Homo sapiens: one gene and its partner. The protein of the gene in region 1 interacts with the protein of each later gene in a pairwise test. Each region holds a gene or a part of one and is shown on either strand. Other genes may lie near its edges.

What was found.
Region 2: the proteins of GAS1 (region 1) and DLK1 interact in a two-hybrid assay, tested with the Homo sapiens proteins (one study listed by BioGRID).

Annotation. Positions count from the first base shown.
Region 1 is NC_000009.12:86,944,497-86,952,153, reverse strand, and holds the start of GAS1 (growth arrest-specific protein 1 precursor), read left to right. Parts: upstream 1-4,647; 5' UTR 4,648-5,374; coding exon 5,375-6,412; 3' UTR 6,413-7,657. UniProt on the Homo sapiens protein: Specific growth arrest protein involved in growth suppression. Blocks entry to S phase. Prevents cycling of normal and transformed cells. Binds 20(S)-hydroxycholesterol (20(S)-OHC).
Region 2 is NC_000014.9:100,722,995-100,729,893, reverse strand, and holds the start of DLK1 (protein delta homolog 1 isoform 1 preproprotein), read right to left. Parts: upstream 3,003-6,899; 5' UTR 2,826-3,002; coding exon 2,759-2,825; intron 1,499-2,758; coding exon 1,435-1,498; intron 959-1,434; coding exon 828-958; intron 1-827. UniProt on the Homo sapiens protein: May have a role in neuroendocrine differentiation.

The DNA of each region.
Region 1 (7,657 bases):
GGGAGTTCCCCCATACTGTTCTTGTGAGAGTGAGTTCTCAAAAGATCTGGCTGTTTGAAAATGTGTAGCACCCCTCTCCTTTGCTCTCTCTCTCCTGCCAGCCATGTGAAGAAGTGCTTGCTTCCACTTGCCTTCAGCCATGATTGTAAGCTTCCTGAGGCCTCCCCAGAGGCAGAAGCCTATAAAGCCTTCTGAACCATGAGCAGATTAAACCTATTTTTTAAATAAATTACCCAGTCTTTATAGTAGTGTGAGAACACACTAATACAGGGTGTCTGTGACTTAAGACTTCTGCTAAGTGGTTAGAGCCTCTGACAACTCCAAATGGCCAAGTGACATATTGTTGAGTCCTCTGAGGGCAGAAGTCTATCTCCTCCTACTTTATCTGGGTTATGTTGCTAAAGCACCAAAAGGTAATTGGTATTTGTTGATTGAGGTTTTTGTTCTTTCACTGAACCAGTCAACCCTTTTGGAAATATAATTTTATATTTTAAAACTTCAGAACTATTCTGTATTCTTTAATCTCTCAGGGTCTTTATTACTGTTCTTTGTAGTAGAAATGATTTGGACTAGTTCTGAGTTGGCTGATTTAGAAGACAAGAAGTGCTGATTCTTCATTCATTCAACTTATCAAATATTTTATTGACACCTATGATGAGCCATTAATTGAATGTAGAATGTGAAGAAAAGGAAAGAATTCAGGCAGATACTAGCATCTTTCACCTAAGCAATTGGACAGGAAGAAAAGTTCTAATGCTCTATTGTTGCATAACAAACCATCTCAAAACTGAGTGGCTTAAAAGAATATTTTTTTGTTATTTCTCAGGATTCTTTGGGTTGACTGAGCTAAGCTCTGCTCTTCTTGCTTGAGGCAAGACCAGAACTAGAGAAAGGTGAGTGTAGTGTCTAAAGTACAAAATTTAAGGAGGCACTCACTCTTGGAGTCTTGGAGCCCAATTATGAAGGTCAATGCCTCCTTACATTTTGCACCAAAATGCCTCACTTGCTTCACGCTGATCTTGACCCTGGCTTGGGGTCTCTCTCATGTGTCTTCAGTAGGATGGCAGCTAGAGCTGGAGTCACCTGAAGGTTCAGCTGGGCTGGACATCCAAGTTAGTGTCTCCACTCACAAGTCTGGTGCCTTCTTCACTCACATGGCTGAAACAGCAGGGAGCTGGCCAGGCATCTCTTTCCTTCTCCATGTATCCTCTACACATAGTAAGCATGGGCTTCCTCACAGCATGCGAGTCTGAAGGTGGTCCAGATGTCTTACGTGGTGACTGGCTTCTGCAGAGCAAGTATTCCAAGAGGCCTGATAAGGTTTGGCTCTGTGTTCCCACCCAAATCTCATCTTGTAGCTCCCATAATTCCCACATATTGTGGGAGGGACCCAGTGGGAGATGACTGAATCATGGGGGTGTATCTTTCCCATGCTGTTTTCATGACAGTGAATGGGTCTCATGAGATATGATGGTTTTAAAAACAGGAGTTTCTCTGCACAAGCCCTCTCGTTGCCTGCTGCCATCCATGTAAGATGTGATTTGCTCCTCCTTGCCTTCCACCATAATTGTGAGGCCTCCCCAGCCATGTGGAACCCTAAGTCCAGTAAACCTCTTTCTTTTGTAAATTGCCCAATCTTGGGTATATCTTTATCAGCAGTGTGAAAACGGACTAATACAAGGCCCGAGTAGAAGCTGCAAGGCTTCTTGTGATCTAGCCTTGGAGGCCCCAGAATGTCAGTCACTTTCACTATGTCCTATTGGTCAAAGTCAGTAAGGCCTACCCAAGACTCAAGGGGAAGGGGATTATACTCTGCCTTTTGATCTGAGTAGTAAGGATGTAAAGGTAGGGAGAAAAGTGATGGAGACCAATTTTGGAGGGTATCTACCACAGTAAGCCCAGTAAACAAATAGGTTTTGGGGATGGAAATTTAGAAGTGCTCTTGGGGAAGCTTAAGTTTGAGATGTCCTTGGAACCAAGTGAATATATACATATGGAGATCAGAGAAAGACTGAGATTGAAAACATCAAATTAGGAGATGCAATTTAAAATCAAGGCACTAGATGTGGTTACCTAAGGAGTTGAGAGACAGAAGGAGCCACCAGGCAGTAAAATGAGAGAACAGGGGAGTATGGAGTTTCGGAAGCCAAAATTTTAGAAAGCGCTTTGAAAAGGAGGTGATCAGTCATGGCCAATGCTGCTGAAACGTCATATAAGCTGAGGACTGAGAAGTGACAATCAGGTAGAGCAAGGTTTTGGTCACTAGCGACTCTACATAATCGAATGGAACTCGATTATGTAGAGTGAATCGAGTGGGGAAAGTGAGTAAAAGCAAGATTTTCAAGTTTTCATGAAAATGGGATAGTGACTGAATAGGGACGTGGAGTCTAGAAGGTTTTACTATTATGTTTTTTTAAGATAGAAGACAGTATAGCCTATTGTGGTGAATGGAAATGACACAGTAAAAAGTGGGCTGAGAACCCCTCAGGCTTGCAATGCTAATGCTATGTGACTGGGATGCAGAAGTCCCCAAAGCATGCAGAGCTCTTGGGCCTCCCTTAAACCCCACTGAGAGCTGTATCAAGGCCAAGGTGGGGCAAGTGTTACCAAAAACACAGCAACAACACAGAAAAGAAACATGTTAACTTTGAGAGCAGTGATTCTCAAAGTTTGAGAGCAGCATTCCCTGAGAACTTGTTAGAAATGCATATTCTTGGGACCCACCAGTCCAACTAAATCAGAAACTCCAAAAACTAGGGATCTGAGTTTTAGGATACGTGCTAAGGTTTGGGTCCCACTATTCTAAAGGAACTCAACAAAAATTCAAGTAAAGATGAAACCGAGTGCTGACTTTGTTCCTTATGGGCCTAAAATAACAAAGCTTTAAAGACAAGAGGGGATTTTTCAATTGTCTAATTGGCTTCGAACCTTACCTGTGGAGGGATCCCAGACACAGAGAAGGTGTCTGAGTTGTCCAAGTCCTCCAGGCCGGACTGAGAGGACAACTCCAAATAATAGAGAAAAAAAAAGAGACAGAGAGCCAGGGATATGGTTGTTTTGATGTGCCATGAAGTTGCAGCCTTTCTGGATTTTTTTAGTATCGATTTATATTGCTGTTTGTCTACCAATACTCAAATCAGAGCAAGACGGTCCGCCTTACCTCAGTCTGGCTCTTTTAAGGTTTGATTTTGGTTTTGGGGACTGCAGAGGTGCAGCTTCCCACGGCAGACCAAGCGCCTCTGAGGAACGCAGCAGCTTCAGCAGGTACAGGAAGATTTCCCGCAGCCGGAGGAATCTCCTAGTGCTGGGCCTCCGGCTGTGACTTTTGCCATTTCAAATTCACTTGGCCTCTAGGGAGAGGCAGACAGCCCGACGCTGAGCGCGTCGGAGCCCCGGCTCCCTCTGCTTCTGGAGAGGAGATTTAGCCTTAATTTTTGTGACAGATGGAGTTGATAGTCTCTCCACGGAAAGGGGAGGAAAAAAGCGCCAGTTTTTGACAGGCCGCAGACGCCCGCTGCCTCTGGTGGCGGAAGGCTGCGTTGCGCCCCAGTTAAGGTAGCTCGGAAACTCCCTCGCCGAGAAGGCAGAGGTTTCCTCTGCAGAGCAGCCTCCCTTAAATATACTGAGGGGCTGAAACTTACACTTTAATATAAACCTTTGGTGCGTGCCCATTTATTCCGTCTTCTGTCCTGTGACTGCGGCCAGGTGGTAATTGCTCGACATTCCTGAATATTTTTAATGCTAGTTAAATTTTTTCATTATTGCACGTGTTGCAAGCTTATCTTCCTAAGAAATTATTTCGGTTGATTGGATTTCGGTCTTGCAATTTGAAAACGATGCCTGGCGCACGGGCGGTACCTGCCAGATGGCCTAGCTGGGGCTGGGGGGTGGCGGGCGGGTTGTAAGCATCTCATCAACATCTCCCTAATAAAGTGTGTGCTTCTTTCTTGTATGCTTCTTTAAAACAGTTTCAGTCTCACATTTTATCTCTGGATTCTCCCCTTCCCCTCTGTGGTGATCAAGACCCAAAGACAGGGAGCCTGGAAGATAAACTGAGTTCTGAATCCAGTCGAAAGCACAGATGGGGGCCAGCGAGAATTAATAAAACTACAAAAAAAAAAAAAAAGAAAAAAAAAACAAACAAAAAAGGCCCGTGGCTGAGCCGGATGCAAACAGCTGCCCCTAAGCCCTGCCCGCTGGTTCTGTGCGCGAGCTGGGGCTGCATATCCGAGCCTCCTTAAGAGTAGGAGGAGCTCCGGGCCTCCGTCAGGCTCCCTAAGCCGTTCCTTTCAAGCCCTGAATGCCTGAATGTGAGCTGCCCACCACCCTCCCGCCCTCCCCCACTCCGCAACCCCACTCCAGCGGCTCGTAAAAAAAAAAAAAAAAACTTTCAACAACAACAGGCAGGACCAATAGCATCTCGAAAAGCCGGGAAAGGGGGCCGAGCAAAGGGCGAAAGAGAGTGGAGAAAGGAGAAAGCGGGCAGGCTCGGAGCGCGCGGGGCCGGGGCTCGGCGAGCCGGAGGAGCGTTGCTAATGTTTTTGTTTGTTTGCTTTTCCATGCATGCATAATGAGGGGGCACCGCGGCACCACGCGGGGGCTCCCGGCCCACTTTTGTATTTAAAGCCTCGCTGCTAACGAGTCTGCAGCCGGGCTCAGCGGATCCGCTCCCCGGGCTCTTGGTCACCCGAGAAGCTGCCGCCGAGTGAAGCCAGGGAGCCGCTCTCCGGCAGCGCCGACTTTCTTGTTCTCCCCGCGCTTCCCGGAAAGAGCTCCCCGGAGCTCTGCGGAGGCCGGGGTTGCCGCGGGCGGAGGGGGAGGGGACGCGGGGCGGCCGGGCCGCGGGAAGGCGGGCAGCGCGCGGACGCCGGGCCAGGAAGCGGCGCGATGCGAGAGACCGCGGCGGCGGTGGCGGCGGCGAGGCACTGAGCCCAGGAGGAAGGAGCCGCCGCGGCCGCAGCGCGAGCAGCCGGCACGGGGACAGCCGGCCGCACAACGGATCTGCAGGCGCGGAGCAAAATGCACCCGCCGCGCCGCGCGGTCCTGCAGCCCCGCCACGGCCCCGCGGCCCGCACCCCCCCGGGGCGACAGTGAGCCTCTCCCGCCACCACCGGGGGCCGAGCGGAGGGCTCTCGGGTGGGAGAGCGGGACCAGATCTCGACAGCTGTTCATTTCCAGGAAGCCACCGCAGCCAGAGCGAAAGGGGACCTTCTGCCACCAGCGGGGCATCAGCCAGCGGCGCGCATGGATTTATGAAGACACTCATGCAAGAAGTGGGCAGGACTTGGACAAACTTTTCCACCGGCTCCGCGTCCGCCGCTCCCCGCGCCTCGTCTCCTTTCCCCTCCTCTCCCGGCGGCCGCCGCTGCCCGCGATGGTGGCCGCGCTGCTGGGCGGCGGCGGCGAGGCCCGCGGGGGGACAGTGCCGGGCGCCTGGCTGTGCCTGATGGCGCTGCTGCAGCTGCTGGGCTCGGCGCCGCGGGGATCGGGGCTGGCGCACGGCCGCCGCCTCATCTGCTGGCAGGCGCTGCTGCAGTGCCAGGGGGAGCCGGAGTGCAGCTACGCCTACAACCAGTACGCCGAGGCGTGCGCGCCGGTGCTGGCGCAGCACGGCGGGGGCGACGCGCCCGGGGCCGCCGCCGCCGCTTTCCCGGCCTCGGCCGCCTCTTTCTCGTCGCGCTGGCGCTGCCCGAGTCACTGCATCTCGGCCCTCATTCAGCTCAACCACACGCGCCGCGGGCCCGCCCTGGAGGACTGTGACTGCGCGCAGGACGAGAACTGCAAGTCCACCAAGCGCGCCATTGAGCCGTGCCTGCCCCGGACGAGCGGCGGCGGCGCGGGCGGCCCCGGCGCGGGCGGGGTCATGGGCTGCACCGAGGCCCGGCGGCGCTGCGACCGCGACAGCCGCTGCAACCTGGCGCTGAGCCGCTACCTGACCTACTGCGGCAAAGTCTTCAACGGGCTGCGCTGCACGGACGAATGCCGCACCGTCATTGAGGACATGCTGGCTATGCCCAAGGCGGCGCTGCTCAACGACTGCGTGTGCGACGGCCTCGAGCGGCCCATCTGCGAGTCGGTCAAGGAGAACATGGCCCGCCTGTGCTTCGGCGCCGAGCTGGGCAACGGCCCCGGCAGCAGCGGCTCGGACGGGGGCCTGGACGACTACTACGATGAGGACTACGATGACGAGCAGCGCACCGGGGGCGCGGGTGGTGAGCAGCCGCTGGACGACGACGACGGCGTCCCGCACCCACCGCGCCCGGGCAGCGGCGCTGCTGCATCGGGCGGCCGCGGGGACCTGCCCTATGGGCCTGGGCGCAGGAGCAGCGGCGGCGGCGGCCGCTTGGCGCCCCGGGGCGCCTGGACCCCACTCGCCTCCATCTTGCTGCTGCTGCTTGGGCCGCTCTTTTAGCCCTCGCGCCCCCCGCCGTTGGCTGCGGGAGAGCCCGCGTCCCACTCCCGTGCTCGCCTCGACCCCGCGCCGGGCACCTGTGGCTTGGGACAGATAGAAGGGATGGTTGGGGATACTTCCCAAAACTTTTTCCAAGTCAACTTGGTGTAGCCGGTTCCCCGGCCACGACTCTGGGCACTTCCCCTGAAGCTCCTCTCCGGAGCTTGACTTCTTGGACCTCCTCCCCCGCCCCAATTCCAAGCTCCAGAAACTCCCAACTCGTCTGCCGTCCAGAAAGCTAGCTGCAGTGTTCAGGACGTCCGGGAGGAAGCAAGCATGTGGGGGACAGAACAGTAGTCCTGGACTCGAAAGGGAAGGTGCTGACCAGTGGGGCCTTAGCAATTTGAAGGGTTGGGAAGGAGGAATTATATTTGCAAAGGGGCTGTCTATTAGCATATTTCCTTTGAGGGGGCAAAAAAAAGTGCCAGTATCGACTTTTACAGATTGTGGCCAGTGAGGATATTATAATCCTATGTAAACAGAAAAGTCCCACTTACCGATTCATTCTTTCACTGTTTGTATCTGCGCCCAGAATTCTCAGTGACGTGGGGGTGAGGGTGGGTGGCGATTGCCTTAGAGGGAACCCCTAAATTGGTTTTGGATAAGTTTGAGCCCTTGACCTTAATTTCATTGCTACCACTCTGATCTCTTAGCACATTTCTTAGGATTAAGGGTCCAAAAATGCTGATCTAAGGGGTTGCCATGGTGTTGAACAATGCAACTTTTTATTTAAAAAAGCTCTGCACTGCCATGTATGAAAGTCTCTTTATGATGTTTGTTTTTTTGTCATTTTTGTTCTTTACATCAAGAAATTTTATGTTTAAATATGCGGAGAATGTATATTGCCTCTGCTCCTATCAGGGTTGCTAAACCCTGGTACATCGTATATAAAATGTATTAAAACTGGGGTTTGTTACCAGTTGCTGTACTTTGTATATAGAATTTTTATAAATTGTATGCTTCAGAAATAATTTATTTTTAAAAAGAAATTAAAAGTTTTAAACTCACATCCATATTACACCTTTCCCCCCTGAAATGTATAGAATCCATTTGTCATCAGGAATCAAAACCCACAGTCCATTGTGAAGTGTGCTATATTTAGAACAGTCTTAAAATGTACAGTGTATTTTATAGAATTGAAGTTAACATTCTTATTTTCAAGAGAATTTATGGACGTTGTAGAAATGTACAAATGCATTTCCAAAC
Region 2 (6,899 bases), on another chromosome or scaffold:
TGTACCGTCTTTACTAATGTTGGGGACTGAGGGACAGGGGCCCTGAGGGCAGGCTGCTACACAGCTGGGAGTTTTTTTGTGGACTTCAGTTTGCTCAAACGTTAGGGCTGGTTTTGCCAAATGAAAATGGGCTTAGACGAACATTTCGCAGCCTGAAAATGCAGTGACAGCCAACTCTCAATTGCTTGGGGTAATGGAGGCAAAGATTGCATAAATTAATGAAATCAACAGATAACACCCATCTTCACTTTAACCCTTTCTCAGCTTTTCCCAACTGCAGCCTCCCCCTACACCTGACCCACTCAGTCCAGGCCCCCCAGCCCTGTCCTCCTGGCCCTGACTCAGCACCTGCCCCTCAACCACTGAGCAGTGCTGGCCACCCCCCACCCCGTTTGTTTGTTTGCAGCCTCTTTACAGTCTTGCGTGTGCTTTTCTAGGGAGTCTTAGCTCTGAGATCCCCAGAGCCCTGTCCATCACTGGGCTTCCATGACCTGGACAGGCAGCCTGGGGTCTGTGGTCCCACCGGCCCAGCTGTATGTGTATTTTGTGACTCTTTATTCAACAGGCAGCTCCCTGGCCCCCACGCCATGTTCCCTCTAGGTGCTGGGTGCTGATGGCGCAGAGAAGAGCAAAATAAAGTCCCTACCTCTGAGGAGGCATTCGGTACCCACAGGAAATTTATAAACAGATCTTTAGAATACAGGGCACGGAGTGTGCAGGAATGAGGAAGTGAGGAACACCAGCAACAGGAGACTGGGAGGAGGTGGTAGGGGCTAGGGCAGGCAGGTAAGGACGCAGAGCTGAGGTGAACAAAGGCGAGTGCCAACCTCTATCACAGAGCTCCCCGTCCCAGCCGTCGGTGCAAATGCACTGCCCGGGTTCTCCACAGAGTCCGTGAAGGCAGCCGGGAGAGGTCACGCACTGGTCACAAAGGGGACCCTGCCAGCCAGGCTGGCACCTGCAATGGGTGGGGGAGAAAGGTGGGGACATATGAAGAGGGCAGGGGTAGAGAGGCAGCTCAGGCTACTTTCTGTGGAACCAAGGACCCTTGGGGGTCTTTGCACAGTGGCAGCCGGTGGTCCTGGGAAGTAAACACCAGCCACCTGAATGGGAAAACTTAAAGAGAAAACATGCCAAGCTGAGGGGGCCGACTTGGAGGGGCCCCGAGATCCCGGGGGAGTGCTGCGTTTTGCCGCAGTGGCCTGCAGTGGTCCCACCTGCCCCCCCACCTCTGAGAACGCAGACAGGAGCTGTGGCTGCCCCCCCCCCGCCCCCCCCATCTCCCCAGCTCGCCCCACCAGTTTTCTGCAGGGGCCCGGAAGCTGTTTGCTGCAGCGTAGTGGCCAAGCCCCCTATTTTTTTCTGCCTGACTTCACGACTCCCCAGGCTTCTGCGTGGCCCCTACAAGCTGCCTCTGAGGAGCCACTCTATTACCTGCAAACATTGTCATCCTCGCAGAATCCATTTTGGGGGTTGCAGGCCGGGAAGCATTCAGCCCCTGAGGTACAAGAAAGGTTATACAATTCACCCCACCAGGCCCCAGGCCAAGGCAAAGGCTGTCTTCGCCCACACAGCCCACCACTGCCCTCGAGGGCACCAACAGCCCTCTTGGGTCCTACCAGCCTGGCACACAGTAGGCACTTCCTATCCGAGCATGGATGGGGCTCAGTGCACTCAGGAAAAACATCTCTGCCACGTTCCCAGCAATGAAATGACCACAGTACACTCTCCCTCGTTCTTAGGAGCAGGAGAAACACCTTCTCCTCGGACTCCCAAAAGCAAATACGACACCTCAAGTCCTCCTAACAGCGGGGACGGGGACCGTGGAGGGAAATATGTTGAGCCCTGGGCATGCAGCCTGACCGTCACTTTTGCAACCTGAGCTGAAAAGAGGAGCAGATTTTGAGGTGTTCAACTCCGGGAAAGCCCAGACAGGTTCACCTGGTGGGCGCCCCAGTAAGGCGTCTGCATTCTTTTTAAGGTTCATCCCTATTAAGCCGGGCACCCAGGTCAAATCTTCCCTCTTTCCCCTACCCCAGACTCTTCGCATTAAAAAAACGATGACGACACAGGGTTTTGCTTAGCGGGCTGAGGTTGCAACAACACTGCTTAGAGATTCTGACACTTTAACAGGCACCTACTGTGTGCATTTACTCAACCAGCTCCCCAGCTTTCTAGACAGCCCCCTTACAACCACTGGTGCAATGAGTGGGGGGGCGCTGCAGGAAGGGGGCAACTCTCTCGCTGTCAGAGACAGATGGCCGCTGCAGACAGAAGTGTCGCAGCCCCTCACCTACAGAAACGCGCCACGCAGGAAGGGCTCAGGCTGGGCTTCTCTGGGAATTGGGGGCTAAGACGGCAAAGTCGTCCCCCACTCCCGCCCCGAGACCTGTTCCAGAACGCTCACACAGGGACACCCCAAAGTTGCACCCCAGAGTATTTTCATAGAAGACTCCACAACAGCACCCCATTTTTCCATACCTCCTTGCTCAGCGCACCGACACCCCTCTGGCGCCACTTCTGCAGGGCGGGAAGGGGCTGGGGGTCTCACACATCCCCTGCGCCCTGGGACCCCTGGGACGGGCCTTGGCATGCGAGCGTGGTGGGTAGGGCGAGACAGGCACAGCGCGGGGCTTAGGGCTAGGCGGGACGGGCGGAGTTGGGGCTCACGAGACGGGGCGTGCGGGGCACCGGGCGGCCGGCGGGGAGTCGCAGGCTTCCCCAGAGGGGGCGCGAGCCGGGCCGCCGGGGAACTCACCATAGGTGCTGTGGCCGAAAGCCAGCAGGAGCAAGAGGACGCGCAGGAGGGCTTCGGTCGCGGTCATCTCTGGGCGGCCGGGGTCGCGGTCCCGGGAGCGGTGCGGGCGCGGGTCCGGCTCCTGGCGCCGCACTGGGCTTCTGGTTGCGGACGCGAAAGGGGGCGCGGGCGCGCAGCGAGGGGAAAGCCAGGGCTGCACCGGGCTGCGCGCTGCGCTCTCCACCGCCGCTGCCGGGGAGCTGCCGCCGCCGCCGCGCGCGCCGCCCTTTTCGTACCGCCTCCCCCCTCGCGGCCCCCGCCCCCCGCCCCCGCCTCCGTGCGCACGGGGCCGGCGCCGGCCAGTCCCTGTGACCCCCTCCCCTCGCAGGGCCGCCCCCGACCACGGCGGCGTCCCAGAAGCCCGCTCGCGCACACGGGTGCACTCTTGGCTAGACGGGCACAGGTATCCCGCGAGCGTTTGGTACACGTTCCCTCACACTGTACAGCACGCGGCCGCCGCGCACATACAGGCCTGCCTAGGACAAGTCGCAGGAATCGAACCTGGGCCGCAGACCTCCCCGGAGAGCACAAATCCGCACGCAGGAACACCGAAACACTTATCGCTGAAGTCCCGGGCACACGTGCAATGGTTAGATACCCAGGAAAACACAAAGGCGCACTATGAAGATGTGAACTAAGCACATAATTACACACGCACACAGAAAAACCCCCAGGAAAAGCCCGACGCCCCCTGTACCCCTGGCCATGAAGACGCAGAAAAATGCAGTTGCCCCGTGGCAACCCACACCCCGCAACGGAAACGCACACGGCAACTCAAACACACTGTAGCCCAGACGCCGTATAGACACAGTCCTAGGTGGCAGAGGGTCAAGCGGACCTGCGGTTACCCAACCATGGGCATCCTCCCCCATGTGCCGACCCCCTGCACACAGACGCTTACGCAGAGCCACCTGCACACCCAAACACGCAAACACACGTATAAACAGACGGACACCCGTGCCCGCATTCAGTCACACCCACCCCCGCACACACAGCATCTCAGTCAGGGCCTTAGCCGCGCTGAAACACAAATGCACCGACTCTTACGCACACATGTACGCACAGCCATGCACCTGATACCCACAAGCACACATACCCAGCTGACTCGTGGTCACACACACTGACAAAAACATATACGCAGTCCCCACACACACACGATCGCATCTGTCTTTGTCCACAGTGGCATGCATGGGCAGCCTCACCAATGTGCTCTCACATACACACAATAGCACTCCAGGCACTCGGCACGTATTCCAGACTCACTGGGAGACCTTCTCTGAGGGGTCGCCCGCTGGAGAGGTGGAGGTAGAGGATGCTGATTGCCAGAGACCCTCTTCCTCTGCAGAGCTCCCAGGGAGAGGGAGTGCTCCTCAGACACCCCTCCTCCCCATTGCCCCCGGCTTAGGCTTAGAGCCCTGCTGGAGAGGAAAGCTCTGCACCCCTGCACCCAGTCTGGATGGGGGAGGCTCAGAAAGATAGGGAGGGAGAGGGGTAGGAGGGGATTAAAGATATTTCACCTCCTGGGGGAAGGGTCCCAGGCGTCCCAATCTTTGGGTGGGTCGTTTAGGATACTTAATTTGCATATATTAATTTGCATACATATCCTAGATGCAGGGAGTGGGTGCCCACCCAGCTCGCGGCCTCCCCTTCTTCACAGTGCTGCAGGGGGGTGTGATCTCACCACTGTGAACCTGGAGGCTGGATGCTTTGACCTCCTGGCCCTCTAGTCCAGCCCTGGCAGGTCTGAGCACAGATTTCCCATCTTAGCCATAGATGTGGGAAGGCAGGCCCATGGGCATCCCCAGGCCCACCACCCCTAAGTCAGTGCTCCAGTAAGGCACTCGGGATGGGTACAGGGATGGACAGAGACCAGAGCTGCTCTGGGCTGGCTCCAAGGAGGCTGGAGGGAAACTCCCAGCCCCTGGTGGAAGATATCCCTTCCCTGATGTTATCTGCAGAATGCCCAGATAGGTAGGGGCTGCTGGGAACGGCTTTGGGGACAGGCTGTAGGGAGCAGTTGGGGTGCCCACTGTGTGCCTGCCACATGCCCTTGCATTCCTGTGACCCTACTTTCTTCCGTGGACTCTTTCCTCAAGTCAAGAAACCAACTTCAGTGATGGAAGGTCCTTTGCCCAAGGCCCTTGGCCTAGAACGAGAGTGTCTGGCTGACAGGCCCAACCCTGGGTGCCAATGTCCACTGCATGGTGATCGCCAAGGTCTTCCTGACCAGGGTTCCTCTCTTCCCTCCCTTCGAGGCCCCTGACTTCAGCCTCCAAAATTATCCCAACAGCAGGCAGACCTGGAAGAGCTGAGTTCTCAGCCAGAAGCCAAGGAGGGGTGGAGGATCTCAGGGCTGGGTAGCCCTGGGGCAAGGGCCTCCCAGGCTCTTGCCAAAGTCCCGCAGAGAGGAGACTCCCTGGACTGCATGGAGCACTTAGGGGGCCCCAGTGTCCCCACCCACACACATACCTAGACTCCTCCCTTCCCCATCCAGGTTCTTCCCCCTTCCCACCCCCGCCCCCAGCCCCACCACAGCCCTCCCCAGTTTAGGAAAGGGAGGGAGGCCAGAGGAGGGTATTCTCGCCCAAGGGAGTCTGTCAAAATGTCACAGGCTTACGCTGAAAGGGCACTGCCTTGGCTTGGGGGGCACCTGCTCTCTAATCCTATCTCCATTTCGTGCCCACCAAGGGCCCAGTCTCTTCCATCTGTGAGCCCTGTTTCTTAGCCCATAAACAGGAATGTCCCACCTGTCTCTGAAAGGAACTCCGGTTTTTGTAAGCAGAAAAGCACTGTGCTGACAGGGCCTGGTCACAACCCCTTCCAGCCATTCCTCCAACAGCTGCACCCCAGAGCCCTTGCCCCCGCCAGCTAGAGGATCTCCAAGGCGGGCACCCAGGCTCCACTGGACCCGGGCCCTCTTCAAGAGCCCCATGCAGGGACACTTGAGGGATGGGAGGGGACTTTCTTGTCTCACAGGACCTACAAGCCAGGAAGATTTCTGTTGGCTTGCTCTAATCTTAATAAAGCGTTTGTAAATTCAGGAGGCCGGAGCTTTCTTTTCAGCAAGCAGACACTGAGAAAGGGTAGCTTAGGAGCGGTAGGGAGGGGAGGTTGGTGACTGTCACAGACTTTAAGTCTGCACAGAAGGCGCGAAAATGCCAATGTAGTCCCTTGGGGAGAAGCGGTACAGTCTGCCATTTGCAAGCAGATCCTGGGGGCTGTGGAACGGCAGGCTGGAGGAGCTGGACGCCCCCTCCTCTATCTGCGCATCCCTCCCCTCCTCCCCCCTCCCCTTCTCTCGAGAGCCATGCTCCGTGTACAGGCCCCCGGGATTACAGAGATGAGGCCAGCAGCCCGCAGGTCCTCATAGCATGGCGTGGCAGGCGATCTACACAGGTTGCAGGGACTGGACCTGCCAACTCTGGGGCCAGATCGAGATGCATGAGCTGGACTCCCTCCCTGTAGCCAAGCCGAAGGCTCTGCCTATGGCCCCGCACCCCGCAGGCAAGAGCCGAAAGCAAGGGGAACCTGTCCGGAGGCAGTGTTGCTGGGCTTTGCCGGGGCAGCAGAGGAGCTGGTGATGAGCAAAAGTTTTCCGAGGGAAGGAAAGAAGTGTTGTCTCCAGCCCTTTTTCCTCCCCGCTCCTCTGCTCTCCCCTCCTGTCTGCTCCCCCTCCTCCTTTTCTAAACACTAACTCTTCCTCCAGCCAGCCCCAGACCACTTCGCCCCTGATTAAAGGCAGAAACACTGATCAGGGCAGCTCAGCTGGGTGGAGCTAGAGGGGCCTCTGAGACTTACTAGTCCCGGGCACCAGCGGGGATGGGAGGGCAAGAGCAGGGGTGGCCGGCGAGGGGGCTTCACCCCACCTTCACATTCTGCTCTGCTCACCACCCCCACAGCCTCGGTGGGGATCTCCATGCCTTGAGGCTTTGCTTCTGCCTAGACTAGGTTTTTTTTTTGGTTTTTTTTGTTTTTTTTTTTTGCCGGGGTGGGGGGATCTGAGCCCCCACTGATCCAGTCCTAGTGGGCATCCTACAGACAAGAGATGCCTTTGTCCCCTGTCCCCACACCCAACGTTCTCCATCCTCCCTCCAAGAGAGAA